2 separate regions of the Homo sapiens genome follow, and region 1 is linked to region 2. The links come from fine-mapping of genetic effects on gene expression. Tissue or cell type: whole blood. Region 2 holds a variant in brackets; the other region holds the start of a gene. All regions are shown on one strand. Distances are from middle to middle.

Evidence for each region. PIP is the estimated chance that this variant, and not a neighbour inherited with it, causes the effect.
Region 1: RIDA starts here. The variant in region 2 is fine-mapped to the expression of RIDA in whole blood (INTERVAL, PIP 0.98).

What each region holds. Positions count from the first base shown.
Region 1 is chr8:98,113,446-98,121,629 of GRCh38, forward strand. RIDA (reactive intermediate imine deaminase A) reads right to left here and starts at 3,726. Exons shown (of 6, transcript NM_005836.3): 1 at 3,587-3,726. The coding sequence starts at 3,651. It overlaps POP1 (POP1 ribonuclease P/MRP subunit), which reads left to right and starts at 3,848. Exons shown (of 16, transcript NM_001145860.2): 1 at 3,848-3,945. RefSeq lists enhancers at 3,831-3,880, 3,951-4,120.
Region 2 is chr8:98,092,127-98,100,310 of GRCh38, forward strand. It overlaps ERICH5 (glutamate rich 5), which reads left to right. Exons shown (of 3, transcript NM_173549.3): 3 at 1,095-1,483. The coding sequence ends at 1,207. Among named protein-coding and RNA genes, the nearest start is that of RIDA, 21 kb to the right of the region's middle. The variant G/C (reference allele first, on the strand shown) is at 3,585.

The DNA.
Region 1 (8,184 bases), 21 kb after region 2:
TTTTCTTAAACATTAACTATTGAAAATAAGCACCATTTCTAGTCACCTAGTGCACAAGAGGCACAATGTCCTGGAAGTCTCCACACCATGAAGCTGGCTGGTGGCTTTTTTTCTTGTCATACTGGCACATTCATATGATGATTCCCCTCTTTTTAGCTTTCAGCTTTATAAAGACAGTTGACTCCCACCTACCTTCAAGTCAACCAGGAACATTACTGTTATGCTTTCTTTCCTGAACAAAGTCCACAGAGTATCTCTAAATAGGTCAAGGAAGGGGTATGCTCTTTAGCAGGCTCCAGGACAAAGTGTCTCTAATAATCACTTTGATTTGGTTGTGTCCCTCTTGTTTGGAGGTAAAGATGTTTTTCTAAATGCTACCACTGTGTGATTGAGAGAAAGACATTAGGGCAGAAGGAGAAAAAAAATCACAAATTTTTACTTATAATATCCCCTAACTATTCTCACTTTCTTTACCTCCAAATTTCTATCAGAATTACTATCAGAATTCTTTTTAAAAGATCTGATCATGTTCCACCCTGCTTAAAAACATTTAGCCTGGGCAACATGGTAAAACCCCAGCTCTATAAAAAATACAAAAATTATCTGGGCATGGTGGCCTGAGCCTGTAGCCCCAGCTACTTGGGAAGCTGAGGTGGGAGGATGGCTTGAGCCCGGGAGGTTGAGGCGACAATAAGCTGTGATCCCGGCTCCAGCCTGGGTGACACAGCGAAACACTGTCTCAATATACACACATACAAACACACAACCACAACAACCACAAGAAAAAAACCACATTTAATTGTTCCTTATTATATACAAAATAAAGTTTATATTCTTCCATTTAGTATTGGAAACCACCACAACCTGTACCCTGCTAAAATCTTTTTTTTTTTTTTTTGAGACAGAGTCTCGCTCTGTAGCCCAGGCTGGAGTGCAGTGGTGCGATCTTGGCTCACCGCGACCTCTGCCTTCCAGGTTCAAGCAATTCACTGCCTCAGCCTCCCGAGTAGCTGAGATTACAGGCATACGCCACTATACCCAGCTAATTTTTTTTTTTTTTTGGTATTTTTAGTAGAGACGGGGTTTCACCATCTTGGCCAGGCTGGTCTTGAACTCCTGAGCTTGTGATCCACCTGCCTCGGCCTCCCAAAGTGCTGGGATTACAGGTGTGAACCACTGTGCCTGGCCAAAATCTAATTTTTGTTGGTCACTTTTATTTAATTCCCACAATAATCTTATCAAATGGTATTATTTATGCCCATTGAGAAGACAAAGAAGCAAACTAAGAGAGGTTAAGTCACTCTGCAAGATCATATAATTAAAAAGAGGCAAAACAAAAATTCAAATCCAAAGTCCAACTCTTAATCAGTATTTCTCAAAGGAGTCAGTCATACACAGTAAGACTTATACACAGTCTTACATAGTAAGAAAATGATTCCTTTTCCAATTTTTTTTTTCAATCTACACCAGGGACAACAAAGTAAATGATTAAGACTAGGCTCTAGTACCCATTTCCTAAATTCAAATTTTGTTACATCACTTTTTAGTGGTGTAACTTTTGGCAAATTATTTAATTTTGCACACATCAGTTTCTTCATCTGAAAAATAGGGACTATAATATAACCATGCACATAAATAACTTAGAACAGTGCCTGGTGCTGGCCAGGCATGGTGGCTGACACCTGTAATCCGAGTACTTTGGGAAGCCGAGGTAGGTGGATCGCTTTAGGTCAGGAGTTCAATACCAGCCTGACCAACACAGTGAAACCCTGTCTCTACTAAAAATACAAAAATTAGCCGGGTGTGGTGGCACCTGCCTGTAATCCCAGCTACTTGGGAGGCTGAGACATGAGAATCACTTGAATCTGTGGGGTGGAGGTTGCAGTGAGCTGAGATTGCACCACTGCACTCTAGCCTGGGCAACAGAGTGAGACTCTGCCTCCAAAAAAAAAAAAAAAAAAAAAAAAAAAGGGATAGTGCCCAATGCTGCTGAGTAAGCATCAGTAAATGTTAGCAATGATGACTCTACCCCGTTTGATTACATTAAGGAGAAAAAAAATCATCTTTAGAAAACAAATTAAAACATCACTTGAAAGTTTTTAATTAAACTTTTTTTTTTTTTTAAATAGAGATGGGGGTCTCACTATGTTGCCCAGGCTGGTCTTGAACTCCTGACCTCAAGCAATCCTCTTACCTCGGCCTCCCACAGTGCTGGGATTACAGGCGTGAACCACAGTACCCGGCTAAAGAAACATCACTCTTAACAAAGAGAGAGCAGGCCTCAGGTTTTGAGCCAACTGCAATATCTAGCTAAAATTTAATAATACCTTTTTTTAATTGAGTTTATTTTTTACTATTACTTTCTATTGAATTGTTTTCTATTTAGTGTACTGTTGTAAAGTTTCCTTTTTCAATTAACTTGTTAAATAAAATGAAGTGAGCCATCTCAAAGAAATAGGTTAAGTAAATTATAAGTGATATACAGATTTGGCAAACAAACAAACAAAAAAGACAGAAGTAGCACTTGAATTATGAAAACTTTCTCCCCAAAATCTTTATACCATGCATTCTTCTACCTCCATGCCCTCACTCAAGCCATTCCCTCTACCTGACTTCTACCTCCATGCCCTTCACTCAATGACTTCCTGTTGAAATCCTTAATAAATTAATTTAAAAATCAAACTTTACAACACTACTATAAATGACAAAACCAACCTTCAAAACCAAAGGACTACCTCTCACAAGGAACCTTCCTAAATCTTCTTTTTCCTCTTCCACCCCAAGTTAAAATCAATTTGTCTTTTTTCTCCTTTACTCCCTACCCCACTTGCCCTCTCACTTCTACTGCATTTTATTTATTTCCAAGTTTTCTATAATAATTCCTGTTCTGCCACATCTCAGTGCCTTTTCTCACAGCAGTAGGTTTAAAGGAGGGAGCTGTTGATGGGGCTCTTTTCAGTTGGGAGAGAGGCAGACCAAGTATGAAGCTAATGAAAGAAGTTGGTCATAAAGGACTGCATGTTTTATGATTCAATTTATAGGAAATGTCCACAACAAGCAAATCCATGAAGATGCAAGTAGATTGTCAGGGGCCGGGGGAGAGGAGAATGGGGAGTGAATGCTAATGGGGATGGGATTTATTTTTGGGGTGATGAAAATGTTCTGAAGAAAGTGGTGATGGCTGCACAACTCTGTGAGTATGGTCAAAACCACTGAATTGTACATGTTAAAGGGGGTGAATCTTACGGTACGTGAATTATATCTCAATAAAGCTGTTACCAAGAAAACAAAAACGACCCCCTCCCCCAAAACAAAACACAGGGTCTGAAGGCTTCTAACTGGGGAGAGCTTTCTGGCAGGCTGTGCTCCGCAGCGAGGCAGCCCCAGAACGAGCAAAGTCCCATGGAGTGCAGGTTCCTGGTCCCATCGTGGCTCCCAACTCTCTGTGGGTCTTCGGGCGCGTTGCTTACTTTCCAGGCTCAATTTCCTTGCGTGTTAGCTGGGGCTCCGGCCCGGAGTGGCCCCAACCCCGAATCCCCGAACCCGCACGCCCTGGGTCCGACACAGCTTCCACCAGCCACGTTACCTGTAGGGTCCAATGGCCCCTGGGGCTTTCGCGGTGCTGATCACCCTTCTGATCAAGGACGACATGGCTAAGCCTTCCCTCTTGCAGCCCCTTCAGGAGAAGAAGCCCCAGCACCAGCCCTGCTGGCTTCTTACTGGACTGACCAACCACAGCAGCGCCTCTGCCCCACAGCTCCCGCTGGGGGCGGGCTCGTGCGGCATTCTGGGAACTGTAGTTTCGGCGACGCTCCAGGCCACGTGGAGGAAGCGCCCGGTCTGGCGCATGCGCTCTCCAGCGCGCTCTCCAGGAGCTTTGGCTCGGTGGGTACTGTCGCGGAGGCTTGTCATTCTGACCCGGGGATTCCTCACAGCGTCTGGCAGGTTGGTCGTGAGGGGCTGGTGCCTTCCAGGATGCGAGTGTCGGGGGAACTGTATGCGGCGGCCCCCCTCCCGGCGCCCGTCTCCCCTCTTCATCGTTTCTCTCTCAGACTCCGCTGACCTCTTTCCTTGCTGCCTGTGCCCGGGGCCCCTCTCCCTGGTGTCGCATCTCCTTCGGCCCCTGCGCTGGAGCCCCCTACGTCAGTCATTTCCCTTCATTGCCCCGCCGGGTGGAGGCCGTCCTGGGAATGGGCTTGCATCCCCTCTTCTGCAACCCCAAATGACTAATATGGGTCATTCTGGCGACCACGCTGAGATCTGGGCGTTGGTCCTCCCGTGTTCCCTTTCCTGCTCCTCCTGTGTTCCCTTCTCTAGGGTGCTCCTCGGGCTTTACAAGGTCACTGTCTGAACAGAGCCCTAGTGATTGGGATATCATTTCAGAAAGAAAGATGGTGATCTGGAATGGCCCAGATCCCTTGTAAGTATTCTGCTGTGTCAGAAGGGGTGGTACTTGGCTAAATATTTCTTATCCTGTTAATATTTGCATTGTAAGTACGCTTCGTTTCTTCATTTATGCGGGCACTCATAGATATATGAGTCCCTACTTTGTGTAAGGCACTCTGCTAGATGCTAGGAGGAATGCAACAGTTAAAAAAAATAATAATAAAATCTCTGCCTTCCCTGCTTCCTAAAGATAATACAAGAAAATCTGCTTTATTCCCTCTCATTTTGTCCTACATACTGCTAAGGTTTTGGCCTTCCTACTTCCGGCTCAGGAACCTTCTGATCTTTTTCATTGGTTTGGGGCCTGGAATAAAAGACCTTTCAGTCTGGCCTCCCCTTGCCTATTCAAGTTTCATTGTCATCTACTCCCTTTTCCCACTAGAGTCCTCCTGTATTCACACTGTGGATTCCTGAATACTCTTTCTTCCTTATCTGTGCAAATTCCAGCTAACTGAAATTCTATTTTCTCTTTGACTTTTCCTACCAATTCACATTTTTTTCTTTTTCTTCTTTCCTTCCTTTCCTTTTCTTTTTCTTTGTTTTCTTTCTTTCAAGACAGGATCTCACTCTGTCACCCTGGCTGGAGTACAGTGGCATGATCTTGGCTCACTGAAACCTTGACCTCCTGGGCTGAAGCAATCCTCCAGCCTGAGCATCTCAAGTAGTTGGGATTACAAGTGCACACCAGCACGCCCGGCTAATTTTTGTATTTTCTGTGGAGACGGGGCTTCTTCATATTGGCCAGGCTGGTCTCCAACTCTTGGGCTCAAGCAATTCTCCCACCTCAGCCTCCCAAAGTGCAGGGATTACAGGTGTAACCATTATGCCCGGCCTCATTTTTTTTCTTTCCCTTGTCCTGTTTCCTATTGTGCTGTACCGCATAATTTAGTATTTTATTATATGAGATCCTATTTTCTAATTGTTATGTGTTTCAAGAATAGTGGATTGGAGAGGGAAGGGGTGGAAAAAAAAAAAAGAATAGTGGATAGAGTCAGACTGCCTGGTTTGAATCTCAGCACAATCACAAGCTTAGTAGCCTTGGACTGGTATATAAAATCTCTGTGCTTCGATTTCTTCATTTATAAGATGAGAATAATACTAGTGACCACAGAGTTGTGAGAATTAAATGAATAAGTCATGTAGAATAGTGCCTGCCACATCAAGTTCTCAATGCTGCCTAAGATGACAAAATTCTTATTCTACTTTGGAATTATACACAGCCTGAAACTATTGGGCACATAGTAGGTGCCCAAAAGTTTATTAAATCTGATTAAACTAGATAATTAAGACATATTTTTATTTACAAAATAATTCACCATTTAAGTTTTTAAATAAGAAGCTATTTTGGAGCATTACAAATGATTCAACTTGTGTAAAATATTTCTTGTGAAACAAGGTACCTTTATTCTTAAGACAGATTTTATATCAAGTCTGAATCACCAACTTTTTAGATCTGGAAGAAAATAGACATCATCTAGTTAGTTCCCAGGTTCTCAAACTGGGAACTAACTAACACCAAAGGTTGTGTCTGGCCAGAGGATACTAAGCTGTATCAGAAAACATAACGTATCCATTTTATTTGAAGATTTGGCGAAAATATTTTTATAAAGGCAGCACATATTTAGTGCTTATTAAAGTTTGACAAAACTGACTTGAAGGTGAAGGTAAGAGTTAAGATTCCTTCTGGAAACTTTTTTTTTTGAGACAGGGTCTTGCTCTGTCACCCAGGCTGGAGTGCAGTAATGTGATCAAGGCTCACTCACTGCAGCCTTGACCTCCCTGTCTCAAGCGATCTTCCCACTTCAGCCTCCCGAGTAGGTGGGACCACAAGCTCATAACTATGCCTAGCTTATTTTTTGATTTCTTTGTAGGGATGAGTTCTCACTATGTTGCTCAGGTTGGTTTCTCCTGAGCTCAAGCAATCCTCCCGCCTTGGCCTCCCAAAGTGCTGGGATTATAGATGTGAACCACCACACCAGGCCTCTGGAAACTTTTAAATTAAATCCTCAGACTTCATAAAGATGCATCCTATATTCATTCCCTTCTGCTGTTAGAGGACCACTGCCAGTTTGATTTCCTCATATTTTAGTCTGGACCCAAAGCTCAGGGATGTTCCCAAGGTTATCCTAATCCTCCAGCACCAACCTTTTCTTGGACCATTCTAATACTGAGGGGAGCTAGAGTTTCTATGGTGTTCTTGTCTAGCCTTGCTGGTGAGTTCTGATTCAAGCAGGTAACAGTAGGTTAACTAAGTTGTTTTGTAAAATATTTGGAATGGCTTTTAATGCAGACCGATCTGAATCATGTGCTTCACTAGCCAGCCAGTTCTGCAGAACTCCATTTACTTCCTTCATACTGTTTAATTTGAAAAATGTTTTTGCATGTAGATATAGCTGTCTTTCATTTAGTTGAAATTAGTGGAGTGAGACAGTGAAATGGCATCAATCCCTGCTATTTCATTTATTATTTAAGAATAATAGCTACCATAAACTGAGCATTTAGTTAGCATAAAGCCCCATGCTAAGTGAGTTGTGTATATGCATTTTGCAAAGCCAAAACCATGTACAGTATGTATATGTTTGTTCATTTTTTTATTTTGAGACAGAGTCTCACTCTATCGCCCAGGCTGGAGTGCAGTGGCGTGATCTCGGCTCACCACAATCTCCGCCTCCTGGGTTCAAAGGATTCTCGTGCCTCAGCCTCCCGAGCAGCTGGGATTACAAGCGCATGCCATCACACGTGGCTCATTTTTGTATTTTTTTTTTTTTTTCTTGAGACGGAGTCTTGCTCCGTCGCCCAGGCTGGAGTGCAGTGGCGCGATCTCGGCTCACTGGAAGCTCCGCCTACCGGGTTCACGCCATTCTCCTGCCTCAGCCTCCCGAGTAGCTGGGACTACAGGCGCCCGCCAACACGCCCGGCTAATTTTTTGTATTTTTAGTAGAGACGGGGTTTCACTGTGTTAGCCAGGATGGTCTTGATCTCCTGACCTTGTGATCCTTCTGCCTCGGCCTTCCAAAGTGCTGGGATTACAGGCGTGAACCACCGCTCCCGGCCTCATTTTTGTATTTTTTAGTAGAGATGGGATTTCACCATGTTTGCCAGGCTGGTCTTGAACTCCTGGCCTCAAGTGATCCACTCGCCTTGGCCTCCCATAGTGCTGGGATTACAGGCATAAGCCATCCCACCTGGCCTGTATATAATGTTTAATTCTCACAGCAACTTGTAGAGGAAGAGGCTGAGGCTGAAAGTGAGAAAGTAATTTTCCTAAGATTATGTAACTAAAAAGTGTAAAGAAGGAATTTGAACCCACATCTTTCAAACTCCATAGTGAAAGCCCTTAAACACTATACCATATAGGCAAGTCTTAATTTTGTGTGAGGTCTTGCATTGGAAAAGGAAGTAAGTGAATGGGGGGTAATTTAGTGGCTCTCAGTGGAAGTGGGCAAATTCTGATGTGGCTGGCATTTTGGAAGTTTGTGTAGGTGTTTTGGTTGGCATAATTGGGCTAACATTGCTGGCATTTATTGGGCAGGGACCAGGGATATTAGACAGCCTGCTATGTGCAGAAAAGCCCCACAGTAGCCCAGTACCTAATTTATATAAAATTATTGGTTACACGGGTTTTTTTTTTTTTTTTTTTTGAGATGGAGACTTGCTCTATTGCCCAACTTGGAGTGCAGTGGTGTGATCATCTCGGCTCAATGCAACCTCCACCTCCTGGGTTCAAGCGATTCTCCT
Region 2 (8,184 bases):
AGCTAGGACTACAGGAATGTGCCACCATGCCTGGCTAATTTTTTTTTCTTTTAAAAAATTATTACTTTTGAGACAGAGTCTTGCTCTGTTACTCAGGCTGGAGTGCAGTGGTATTCTTAGCTCATTGTAACTTCTGCCTCCCAGCTCAATCCATTCTCCCTCCTCGGCCTCCTGAGTAGCTGGGCGCCACCATCCCTGGTTAATTTTTGTATTTTTTGTAGAAACAAGGTTTTACCATGTTGGCCAGGCCGGTCTCAGACCCTAGGCTCAAGCAATCTGCCTGCCTCAGCTTTCCAAATTGCTGGGATTATAGGCGTGAGCCACCACGCCCAGCTGTCCAGCTAATTTTTGAAAAATATTTTGTAAAGACAGGAGGTCTTGTTGCCCAGGCTGGTCTTGAACTCCTGGCCTCAAGTGATCCTCTTGCCTCAGCTTGCCAAAGCATTGGGATTACAGGTGGGAACCATCACACCTGGCCATGAACTTTCTATTATAATCTGTTCTACCACCATTTCTTTGGTAATTTTGCATCCTGATTTTATAGAGAGCATTTCTTTCATAAGAGTATGCCAAGACTCGAGATGTTAATTGACTCGACATTTCAGCCATTCAGAGGCTCTGAGAGAATCGAGATGATTACTTTTCTTTTCCTTTTTTTTTTTTTTTTGAGACAGAGTCTCGTTCTGTCGCCCAGACTGGAGTGCAGTGGCGTGATCTCAGCTCACTGCAACTTCTGCCTCCCGGCTTCAAGTGATTCTCTTGCCTCAGCCCCCCGAGTAGCTGGGATTACAGGCTTGTGCCACCATGCCTAGCTAATTTTTGTATTTTTAGTAGAGACGGGGTTTCATTACTTTGGGCTAGGCTCCTGAACTCCTGACCTCAGGCAATCCGCCTTCCTTGGCCTCCCAATGTGTTGGATTACAGGTGTTAGCCACGGTGCCCAGCTGAGATGATTACTTTTCTTGATACCCCCAGAGAAACTTACTGCTTAGACCTGAAGATCAAGAACTGCCCCCATTGGAGACAAACTGTGGGATAATTTATGTTAATTCTAAATAAATGTCTCTTAGTATCTCCTTTGGTTACTTTTCCAGGTGAGACAGGGGAAAAGGTGGAAACAGACATGGAGAATGAGAAAGTGAGTGAAGGGGCTGAAACCAAAGAAGAAGAAACAGGAGAAGTGGTGGACCTTTCAGCAGCCACATAGATAGAAGAGTGAACCGACACAGTGTGTTATCATAGAGGAGACAAAAATGGTAGTGAAGCTTGTGGTTATGTATCTTATCTTTCTACATTTACATGTTTTCTGTAAGGAGTGTGGTTATAGAGAGACTGTTGGAACCATGAGAAGGATGTTTCTGTGTTCTTGATTATATTGTTCTGCAAAACTGCTAAGCCATGAACAGTTTTCTTAGCTACTTAGAATGGTTATACATTTAAAAGTATAAAAACCAAAGCCAATAAAAATGATGTGATTATTTAAGAGTGTGAGGGTGACTTTCTTCATTGTGGCCATGGGGCCATTCAGTATAGAAAATGAGACCCTAAAAAGAAAGTGTAAACCTTTAGGTACAAGTGGCTAGAGAAAGGAGTTAGCAAATTTTAGGGAACTCACAATAATAAAGTCACACAATTATAATCATGATGGAATGAGAATGAACAACAGCAAAAATAATAGGATGAACTATACCAAATATTTCTGTCTTGTTATAGAATTCAGAGCTGATAAGAACCTTAGGAAGTATGTCATCTACACATTTGCTCTCCTTTAAGCTTGTCAACTACCACAGATCCTTATTTATCATGGAATATTAAATATGTTAACAGAATCCTTTGCAAAGGATTGCAACTCTGGTGCTATCACAAGGTTAGACATTTTTCATGATGAAAGGCTACACATTTTCCATGTGCCATTTCGAATCAGCTGTTGATTTTATACTCACATGAGGTTTTTCAATTGGTGTTATCCTTTTGAATAACATTAAAAGTATTTTTAATTAATTCACTTTTAAATGTATTTTGGAGACAATAAACAGCAAGGATTAAAACCTAGATTGTTGCTTATGTAGAGTCTATTCCTGGGCTCTACTCTTTTTTTCTTTTTTTTTTGGACATGGAGTCTTGCTCCGTCACCTAGGCTGGCGTGCAGTGGTGCGATCTCGGCTCACTGCAACCTCTGCCTCCTGGGATCAAACAATTCTCCTGCCTTAGCCTCCCGAGTAGCTAGGATTACAGGTGCTTGCTACCATGCCCAGATAATTTTTGTATTTTTGGTACAGATGGGAATTCACTATGCTGGCCAGGCAGGTCTTGAACTCCTGACCTTGTGATCCGCCTCCCAAAGTGCTGGGATTACATGTGTGAGCCATTGCACCTGGCCACTCTATTCTTTTTTAGATGACTGCAATTTAATGGTAGGCTTTAGTGATGGAAAAAGGCTAAGAAATCAAGATTTTAGAAGCATTTATGAGATTTCTTTAGTGATGCACCACAGAGTCAGTTTTTGAGAATTCTTCTGAAGTTGGCAAGGGATTTTGGCAAATGATTGTATGTGAATAATAAAAATAATAGCTAACTTGCCTACCAGTGAGTGTCTTGTGTGTTTGAGTATCAGAATAGAATTCTGGAAACATTTTGTTTATTTATCTTGTTTGTAAATAGGTATTTTTCTTTTTTAAAAAAATTCCTACTATTTCCTAAGTAAATATGTATTTTTAAGGTAACTGCTCAGATGAATTAACTAGTCTCTTTATTTTTATTTTTTATTTTTTGAGACAGGGTCTTGCTCTGTTGCCCAGGCTGCAGTGTAGTGGTGTGATCATGGCTGACTGCAAACTTGACTTCCTGGGCTCAAGCAATCCTCCCACCTCACCTCTCCTGAGTAGCTGGGACTACAGGCATGTGCCACCATGCCGGGCTAATTTTTGTATTTTTAGTAGAGACAGGGTTTCACCATGTTGCCCAGGCTGGTCTCGAACTCTTGAGCTCAAGCAATTCACCTGTCTCAGTCTCCCAAAGTGCTGGGACTACAGGCGTGAGCCACCCGGCCTAACTAGTCTCTTACTTTAGCTTCTACATTAAAATAACTACTAAGATGGCCTATAATTAATTATAAGAATATAGGATACAGGGAAAAACATATTCTCTTGATTCTGATTTTAATATTAATTTATGTTCTGACTGTAAAGTGCCGAGGAAGACAATAAAAGGAGTTCCCTGAGGAGATGACATCATCCTTTCTGCAAAGTAAAGGCACTGGATTGTGATTGCATTGAAGGCAAGCACTGTGTTTTATGTATTTTTGAATTCAGGCATTTAGCTCCTTTAATGGAATGTGGTACATACTTGATAAATATTTGTTGAATCAGTAAATGAATAACAAATACCAAGGAGTCCCATTTATACTTAATTCATTAAAAAATAATACATATAAAATATAAATTTGGCTGGGCATGGTGGCTCACGCCTGTAATCCCAGCACTTTGGGAGGCCAAGGCGGTGGATCTCTTGAGTCCAGGAGTTCAAGACCAGCCTGGGCAACACGGTGAGACCCCATCTCTACAAAAAATATAAAAAATTAGCTG[G/C]GCATGATGCCATGTGCCTGTAGTCCCAGCTACTCAGGAGGCTGAGACTCAAATCTTTTATTTTCATAAAATTTTGGAAATTTATAAAAATTTCTGGTACTTTCTCTACTTTTGTCTTTATTCTTTAATGTGGTAACTAAAACACTTTTGGAAACTTTTTTTTATTCTTTTAGATAATATTCAGTTTTAACATTAAAAACCTATAAGGAAAATTTAAATATTTCACAATATCTGAACATTCCAAAATTTAAATATTCCATCAAAATAACCTGTTAATTTTAAAAAGTAATAAATATCTATGGTAAAAGTGAAATATAGAAGGGTATAAAATAGGTAGTGAAGTTTCCTTCCCATATCCTTTAGTCCTTCCATGAAAAAATAATATTTCTTGTGTATACTTCCAGAAAAAAAGGTATATGTATATACCAGGCTATATGTATATGCTAAAATATAAGTGTATATTTACATATCTACATTTTGACTTTTTTATAGATGGGGTCTTGCTATGTTGTCTATGCTGGTCTCAAATTCTTGGCCTCAGATGATTCTTCTGCCTGGGTCTCCCAAAGTGCTAGAATTACAGGCATGAGCCACCACGCTCAGTCTACATATCCACATTTTAAAACACAAATGACAATTTACATAGCCCCTGTACTGTGAAGACTGCATGTAAAACCACTGCTTGATCCTTTCCTATGTTAGAAATTTTTCCTTTTGCCCAAGACTGAGTCTTAACAGAGCAAAATGTATTCTGATCATAGGTCCCCAGACCCTGAAAGAAGATTACCGGTTTTGCCCTCAGATTCAAAATGCACAAGATGGACAAAAGGCTTGAGTTGTTCATAGAGAAACTGCCAGCAGGGCTGGATTTTTCTATCCCTGGGGTGCTGTGCAACCACTTTGTAGTCCAGTTGTGTTCTTTTAATTAAGATAACTTCATTATTTCTGTACCTGATGTACCTAACTGGGATGGAAATGAACAAATTTCCCAACTCTCATTCTTGGGAGTGAACATTTGCATTTACCAGCAGTGGGTGCCAGTTTGCAAATCTAGGAAATACCCAGACCAGACTCAAATTCTTGGCCAGAAGTGCCAACCCCCTGAGGCACCCACAGGGTAGAAATGTGTAGTCAATGGCTGGGTGTGGTGGCCCATACCTGTAATCCCAGCCCTTTGGGAGGCCAAGTCAGGAAAATCACTTGAGCCCAGGAGTTCGGGACCAGCCTGGGCAATATAGGGAGACCCTGTCTCTACATTAAATAAATAAATAAATTATTTTATTTATTTATTTTTTTAAAAGAAGAAATGTGCGGTCAACCTATTATATTACCTTACTGCTTTTTCCATTTAGACTGTGGAGTAAAAGCTCTTACCATATTTTGAGCAGTCAAAACACCCACACCACTCTGAACAAATGCTTTATTCCACATTGGGCCTTGAATTAAGAATTGCTTAATTAAGAAAATGTTTCTTTCCACATTTAACTAATCAAAGAATGTTGGATGGTCATGGTAAAATAATCCTAGTAGGGTTTACAATGTACTCTTTTGGCAAATACAATAGCTTGTTAGAGATGGCAAATATCTTTTTTTTTTTTTTTTGGTCATCCAGGCTGGAGTGCAGTGGTGTGCTCTGGTCACTGCAACCTCTGCCTCCCAGTTTCAAGTGATTCTCCTGCTTCAGCCTCCTGAGTAGCTGGGATTACAGGCAGGCGCCACCACGCCTGGCTAATGTTTGCATTTTTAGTAGAGACAGGATCTTACTATGTTGGCCAGGCTGGTCTTGAACTCCTGAGCTTAAGCAATTCTCCTGCCTTGGCCTCCCAAAGTGCTGGGATTACAGGCTGAACCCCTGCACCCGGCTGAGTATCCTATTTTTATGAAGATAGTTTGGTGATCCAATTCCGAATTCTCTTTCACAAAGGCCAGCGATGTGGACATCATAAAGCCATTCATTTGCCCACACACATTTGTAAGGTAAAAGGAGAATGACCCTTCCCTTCTTCTTTCTTCCCACACCAGATAGCAAGGCATGCTGTGTTTGAAATGTTGAAAGCATTTGCTTATAAGATGTCATTACATCTAAAACTATGTCAGCTTTTCACCTCTCCAGAGTTTATAAACTTATGAGTGTTTGGTTATAATCTCAAGGCTTTAATTGCCTATGCAGAATTGGTGTAATTTTAGAGAGCAGCTGACAAGTATGGAATTTCCCTTCCAGTTCCTTTTAGTATCAACAAAAGTTGGCATTAGTAATCCATGTACAGGCAAATTGCAGGCTTTTTGCTTTACTGGTCAGTACCACCACTCAGCACATTTATTGGGGAACATTTGAGTTGTTAAAAGTTAACAACCATATCATTATTCTTGTGCCTAATGAAAGAGGTCTCTGGACATCAAAGCCAGGGTTTAATAACTCCCAAAGGTAGAAGAAAGGCCAACCTATATTATTCTAAAATACTCCTTCGGTTTAATAATGTGCTACTGAAATTAATAAACATGCTACTTCCATCCACCACTGCGGACAGAGGTCTGCAAACCTCACTAATTTCCAGAAAAAGATTTCTGAGAAACCAACTGGGGATACCAATTTTGTTTTGAGATCTGCCTCATTTTGTTTTCTCATAGAATATAGACATTTCTAAAATTTCTTTTCTTTTCTTTTCTTTTTTTTTTTGAGACAGAGTCTTGCTCTATCTCCCAGGCTGGAGTGCAATGGCATGATCTCGGCTCACTGCAACCTTCACTTCGTGAGTTCAAGCCATTCTCCTGCCTCAGCCTCCCAAGTAGCTGGGACTACAGGCATGTACCACCAGGCCCGATTAATTTTTGTATTTTTAGTAGCGAGGGGTTTCACCATGTTGGTCAGGCTGGTCTCGAAATCCTGACCTCGAGTGATCTGCCTGCCTCAGCCTCCCAAAGTGCTGGGGTTACAGGCATAAGACACCACGCCTGGCCTTAAAATTTCTTAATAAAAGTAAGTATGGCGATTCATACTATCACATAAATTTAAAATGATGCATGTTGTATTGAATTGATTTGTGTGATTCTAAACACTTTTTTTTTTTTTTTTTAGACAGAGTCCCACTCTGTCACCCAGGCTGGAGTGCAGTGGCTCCAGCAACTTCTGCCGCCTGGGTTCAAGTCATTCTCCTGCCTCAGCCTCCCGAGTAGCTGGGACTACAGGTGCACGCCACTACACCCACCTAATTTTTGTATTTTTAGTAGAGACGGGGTCTCACCAAGTTGGCCAGGCTAGTCTCGGACTCCCAACTTCAGGTGATCCGCCCGCCTTGGCCTCCCAAAGTGCTGGGATTACAGGCATGAGCCACCACACCCAGCCCTGATTCTTTTTTTTTTTTTTTTTTTTTTTTTTTGAGATGGAGTTTCACCCTTGTAACCCAGGCTGGAGTGCAGTGGTGCGATCTCAGCTCACTGCAACCTCCGCCTCCCGGGTTCAAGCGATTCTCCTGCCTCAGCCTCCTGAGTAGCTGGGATTATAGCCTCTAAACACTTTTAAAAGAGTCATTTTGGCTGGGCACGGTGGCTCACGCCTGTAATCCCAGCACTTTGGGTGGCCGAGGCAGGCAGATCACGAGGTCAGGAGTTCCAGACCAGCCTGGCCAACATGGTGAAACCCCGTCTCTACTAAAAATACAAAAATTAGCTGAGTGTGATGTCGGGCACCTGTATCGGGAGGCTGAGGCAGGAGAATCGTTTGAACCCAGGAGGCGGAGGTTGGAGTGAGCTGAGATGCGCCACTGCACTCCAGCCTGGGCGACAGGGTGAGACTCCATTTCAAAAAAGAAAAAAAAAGAGTCGTTCAATGACAAGAGAAGAGGCTTTCCATGGCAGCTGTACTGTTGTAGAGTAGCTTTGGGTTGGAGAGAGGGTTTGGGGCCCAGCACCTCACTAGAAAGTCACAAGGCCCAATGGTGACTTTTCCAACCACCACCACACCCTTAGCAGTTCAGTGGAGAACAAAGTAATAGTGATTTCAGATAGCAGTTATTTAGTGGATCAGTATAGATTATCTTCAAGTTTCTGGATATAAGAGTTTTTAAACAACATTTTTTTGGTGTTCTTGGCGGGGGTAGAAATAACACTTTCTGCCTAGGTACTTATATGTAACAGAATGACTATTTTAGGCAATAATTACAAAAGAAGGATGTTATTAAAATAATTACTTTTTTCTTAGTATAAAACAATACATGTTCACTGTAGAAACTTCAGAAAATATAAACTTTAAAAGATGAAATATTACCCATAATTCATCAAAGATGATCACTGTTAGTATGTTGATGGACATGAGGGATTATTTTTTTAATTGCAAAACTTGTTGCAATAACAAGTTAGTCAAAGCACAACTATCAATAGAATTTTGAGTCTGTTGAGTCAATGAGTCAGCACTTAATCCATTGGAGATAATAGGTCATAGAGAATGTTCCAGTAATTCTTGCTATATTCATAAACATTGATTAGTGCTGCAGAGTAAGCAACTCTGCCTAAGCACATTAGCACTTAGCTGACCACAATTTATGATTTATGCCAGATGAATAATTCACTGAAATGGAATCCTTTATTTGGAGTTATTTTTCAT